Regions from separate parts of the Homo sapiens genome. Here region 1 is linked to region 2. Evidence: fine-mapped expression QTL. Tissue or cell type: whole blood. Region 2 holds a variant in brackets; the other region holds the start of a gene. All regions are shown on one strand. Distances are from middle to middle.

Region 1 (2,618 bases), 110 kb after region 2:
CCAGAATTTGACCACCAAGGAAGTACCTTACCGGCTCCCTCGGCTTCTTCCTTTGTCTGTGCACAGAGTTGTCTCTGCAGTGTGTGAGGATGCTTTACCCTAGGTTGCCTGCTGGTTTCTTTTCACATTGCTGAGAGCTCAGGTTATTTCTTGCACTGGGTGAGTCCTGATTTCTCACCCCTGAGGCCATCACAAGAGGGTGGGGCATACCTCCTCAGGAGAGAGAACCAGAGACTGCCCCTGAAGGGGAATGTAATCACGAGCAAGCCCCCAAATTGTTATAAATAAAGTTTCCCCCCAGTGCCGCAAAAGAAATAGCACTCGAATATAAAATTTTCTTTTTTTTCTTCTCAGCAAGGCAATTTACTTCTATAGAAGGGTGCGCCCTCACAGACGGAGCAAAGGTGAGCGCACACCTGGACAAGGGAGGGGAAGGTGGTTCTTATGCCTGACCCACGTGATTCCTGATGCTGTGTCCTTCCCCTGTTGGCTAGGGTTAGACCTATAGGCTAAACTAATTCCGATTGGCTAATTTAAAGACAGTGAGGGGGTGAGTGGTTTGGCGGGAAAAATGGTTACCGCAGAGCAGGAAATCGGAATGAACCACGGTGAAGAATGAGTGAGGGAGGAGCAGGTAATCGAAAAATGTTGCTTTATGAGGAAGTTAAGTTTAAAAGTAGAAGGCAAAGAATTGAAGATACTGACATATTGATTCTTTTAAGATAAATTTAGAACTCATATCTAACAGCTGGCATGTCTGGCATGGGGCTCCGGCTGGGGCGCAGTCTTCAGCATTTGGGGCTCTGGGGTGCAGGGGGCAGAGGACGGCCGGGGCTGTGGTGCCCAACCGGTGCTAAACTCAAGCTTGGGAGGTCGCCCACGAGAAACAGTCGCCCTTCCCCACCCGCCTGCTCGGCTTGGCGGGGAGCGGGATGTCGCTGGGGGCGATGCCAGGCGGGCCGCCTCTGATAGCCTCTAGGCTCTGGCGCGCTTCCCCGCCCCTCCCGCGCAGGCGGGCGTGGGATCCCGGCTGATCCAGTCCGGGTTTTGCGGCGGAGCGGGCGGGCTGCGCGTGCGGCGGCTTCAACTGTCGCGGTAGGCAGCAGCAGGCTGAAGGGATCATGGTGCAGTACGAGCTGTGGGCCGCGCTGCCTGGCGCCTCCGGGGTCGCCCTGGCCTGCTGCTTCGTGGCGGCGGCCGTGGCCCTGCGCTGGTCCGGGCGCCGGACGGCGCGGGGCGCGGTGGTCCGGGCGCGACAGAGGCAGCGAGCGGGCCTGGAGAACATGGACAGGGCGGCGCAGCGCTTCCGGCTCCAGGTGACTGCCGGAGCGTAGTGGGATGGGCGCGGCCTGAGGGTACTCGCAGCGGCACTTTCAGCCGCCGGACCCGCCGAGGGACAGGGGATGGGGCGGGCAGAGCAGATGTGTAACTCTCCAGAATCTCTCCTTGCCCTAAGATATTCCGCACTTTCTGAGCCAGGTAGAGCACGGGGGAAGAAAGGAAACGGTAGTGTCAAGGCAGGTGGTGGAAGGCCTTTCCCTCACTGGGTCAAAGAGGAGTTTTGCTTTGTGCCAAAGAATCTCACGATTGCTGCCTATTGGAATGCGAAAACGCAAGCGTGACAACCAGTGGGATGCCAGGGGTTGAGGACTTTGGAATCGCAGAGTGTAATGGCCAAGGGGATCTGGAGAGCTTAGAGTTTTGTTTTTTGTTTTTTTTTGTTTTGTTTTGAGACGGAGTCTCGCTCTGACTCCCAGGCAAGAGTGCAGTGGTGCGATCTCGGCTCACTGCAACCTCCGCCTCCCGGGTGCAAGCGATTCTTGCTGCCTCAGCATCCCCAGTAGCTGGGATTACAGGGGCCCGCCACTACGCCTGGCTAATTTTTGCATTTTTAGTAGAGACTGGGTTTCACCATGTTGGCCAGGCTGATCTCAAACGCCTGACCTCAGTTGATACACCTGCCTCGGCCTCCCAAAGTGCTGGGCGTGAGCCACCGCGCCTGGCTGAGTTCAAGCTTCTTGATTTGTGCATTTGGATCCTAAGAGGGAGCCAGAAAGAAACCTGCCAAGTGCACAGGGAGATCTTGGCAAAGCCAGGCTAGAAGGGAAGTCTCTCTGGCTCCTGCTGTGGTGTCCAACCCCTGGCAAGCCCTTTCCATGAGCAGGTTTAGTTCCAGCCCTCCGTGGGTGGTCTGTCAACAAGCTTTTCTCCCTGCGCTGCCTTTGGATCACCTCAGTATGTGGGTTTGGAGGCGTGGAAGGGCCTGGCTGAGGGTTTGGAAGATGTGGCTTGAAGAGGGGCTTTTCCTCTGGGTGTGTGAAACACTGACCCCAGTTAAAGCCTTCTTATGTGCTGAGAGAGGGAGGGCTTGCTGTATCTGTGGGACCTGACAGGTGGGAAGGCTTTACAGGTTGGGAACCGCAGGACTCAGGAGGGTGTGCCTGGGTGGGAGACAGAAAGAGTCACAGAAAATTGTGTTCAGCAGATGTTCCGCAAGTGATTTTTGAGTTGGGGCAGAGCTGGAACTAGAACCTAGGTGCCCGCTGCACTCTGCAGCCACACTTTCGTGGAGAGGAACAGGAGAGAGATATGAGGAAGGCACCTTGCATGCCAGCCCA
Region 2 (2,758 bases):
TAACCAGCTGGTCTGGGTGTAGCTCTTAGAGGAAGGAGATAGGGAAAAGGGGCTCCTTGCTCCACAGGGCCCTGTTGAATTTTGTTCTCTGGGAGAAAATCATCAAGAAGGGCTGCATGATGTTTGCCCAAAATTTATTTTATAAGAAAAACTTTTTTGGTTAAAAAAAAGAATAAAGGTATGAAAGGGTTTGAGGCCTGAGAGCAGTGTGGTAAGCCCAGCAGGGAAGAAGCCCCCTATACTTCTCTAAAGCCTGGGTGCCTGCTTGAGGAGGGAAGGCAGGAACCCAGGGGCAGGGGAGGGGATCTCTTCAGCAATTATGATGACCACTGTAACCTCCTGGCCCAGGGTTCCCAGGATACTGAGTAAGGGGCCCAAAGACTATAAACCCAGCTGTGAGAATGCCTGTTTGCTGGGCCTCATCAAGGCCTCCAGGACCTCAGTGCAAGGGAAGAAGGAAAAAAGAGAAAAAAGGTGACAGAAAGAGAAAGATAGAACTGGTGGTTGGGGTTCTGGGCAGCCCATGCTTCAGCCCCTGCAAGCTGATGGTACCGAGCATGAGACTGTGAGGTACGGGCCCCATCACATGGTGCTAACATAATCTGCGAAGGCCTGGGATGAGTCCCATGAGTCGCTAACCACATGGCAGGTAGCCCGGAGCCGCCGGATGGCTTCCCTGGCTGTGACTGCATCCTGGTCCAGCCAGTTTTGGAAGAGGCGCAGGTGACCAAAGGCTCCACGGCCCCAGCGCTCCAGCCGCTTGGCGAACTCCAGAAGCCCATCTGGCTTGATGCAGTTGGAACTGGTAGGGTGAGATGGATTAGATATCCAGGAAGCAGTGAATTCCTGGTCTATATCTCTGTAGCCCCATCCCTTGTCTTGCCCCTCCCCTCATGTACCTGATGTCCAGCTGACAGAGAGAGGAGGATGAATCCTCTGAGAAAACATCTGCCAAGGCCAGCAGGCCAGCATTCCCTGGAGAGAAGGGGAGAACGCCTATCACCTCCACCCAAGAACAGGGGACAAGGGTATCCCAACCCAACTATGGCTGGCAGAACCAGCCCTGCTGGTTCCTGAAGCCCCAGCACAGAAATATCTGTATTCCAACTCCCACGTTCCCAGTGGAGAGGTCTTTGCCTTTATCCAGTGAGTTTTTAGGTCAAAGGCCTAGCTCCTTTCCCCTCTCCCTCCCCAGGGTCTGGCCCCCACCCAGGCGGTTCCCTGGCAGCCGGAGGCCCTTCAGTGTGGAGTTGCCCTTCATAGCAGCAACCATCTCAGGCAGAAATTGGGCTGGGCGCTTCTCAAACAGACGGCAGAAGGAGAAGGTAATCTCTGTCAAGAAAAATTATAGTAAATTCTGATGGCTGCATTAGGACTGGTGCTGCCCCTCCTGCCCCAGTTGGCCCTAGCAAGGGGTATTAACATTATAGAGGCCCAAAAAGAGGAAGGAATTTGTCTAGACTCCAAGCAAGGCTGGAACTAAATCAGAATCCAAACTAAAGACTGAACCTAAATGTTCCCTATAAGAAGGTTCTCTGCATGGACAATTCTCCATTCACTTCCTTCTTTCCCTAACACTGGCCACCCTCTATGCGGGGGTGGGGATCAGAGAAAAGTCTATGAGGGGAG[C/T]CTGGCACAGTACATTTATTTTGCCCCACCACCACCATTTTGTCCACCTCTGAAAGGTAAGAGCAACTTTTGGGTGAAGCACTCTAAAAGAGCGATTTCTCATGTTTAGTAGAGGAGGAATTGAGGTTGGGGCTTTTAGAAGGAAAATCATGCAGGTTCTATATCCATTTTATAGCTGAGGACACAAGGCCAAGAAAGGAACAGTGGTTTGCTCACTCAGATTATGGCAGAACCATAGTGAAGACCCAGGAAATGTCCAGGTTCTGAATAAGGAACTTACCTTGCAGAGTCAGATTCTGTAGCAAAAAGAGCACCTCGCTCTGACAGTCAGCGAGATTCATGTCATGGAAGCTCAGTCTTTTCAGGGCTAGGTTGTACTCTGGATAGGAGGCAGAGACCATGGACCATGGACCTTAGCTTTCCTAGAGAACAGTGCTAGGTCCCCACCTACTCCTCTCCCTTCACCATTCTGGCTGGGTCCTACCTTTGAGTGTTTGCAAAACAAGCCCAAAATCCTGGGGAGAGGCAAAGGTGGCACTATCCAGGGACAGCTGCTGCAGAGAACCCGAGGCCTTCAGAACGGAGCACAGCAGTGGGGCTGGCTGGGCTCCCCGTGGAAATCCCATCTCCAACTGCTCCAGGCAGTTTTCTGGATATGGTGGGGAAAGAAGATTCCAGCTGGCCATCTCTACCTCACTCCCATAGCAGGTCCCATCCTGTTCTTAAGGGATTCATCTAAAAAATTATTTATTCATTCACTTGTCGTTGAGTGCCTACCATATGTCAGCACTGTGCTAGATTCTAGGAATTGAGCACTAAATATGAGATTTAGTCCTTGCCCTTGTAGAAATTTTAGACCAGGAAGACAGGCTACCCAGACACAAGCAAATAAAGTATGCAGAGTGGTGGGATAGGAGACATACAAGAACTAAGGGAACATACAGCAGGGGAACTAATCCAGTCTAAAGATCAGTTCTTTTCCTTTTCTGGAGACCAAGCTGCCTTGGTCACTCTCTGCTGGTCTTATGGTGGTTTAGGCCCTGTCTAGCTCAAGAGTATCTTAGTGGTAGGCTCTAAAGGGGGGATAGGTTCCAGATAAGCCAGGAATGAGTGATAGAAGAGGTCCTTC

The links. PIP is the estimated chance that this variant, and not a neighbour inherited with it, causes the effect.
Region 1: FAAH starts here. The variant in region 2 is fine-mapped to the expression of FAAH in whole blood (INTERVAL, PIP 0.98).

Annotation. Positions count from the first base shown.
Region 1 is chr1:46,393,228-46,395,845 of GRCh38, forward strand. It overlaps FAAH (fatty acid amide hydrolase), which reads left to right and starts at 1,090. Exons shown (of 15, transcript NM_001441.3): 1 at 1,090-1,316. The coding sequence starts at 1,122. RefSeq lists an enhancer at 978-1,491.
Region 2 is chr1:46,278,283-46,281,040 of GRCh38, forward strand. It overlaps RAD54L (RAD54 like), which reads left to right. Exons shown (of 18, transcript NM_003579.4): 18 at 1-191. It overlaps LRRC41 (leucine rich repeat containing 41), which reads right to left. Exons shown (of 10, transcript NM_006369.5): 6 at 2,114-2,278; 7 at 1,910-2,008; 8 at 1,210-1,332; 9 at 900-975; 10 at 1-802. The coding sequence ends at 583. Among named protein-coding and RNA genes, the nearest start is that of LRRC41, 24 kb to the right of the region's middle. The variant C/T (reference allele first, on the strand shown) is at 1,630.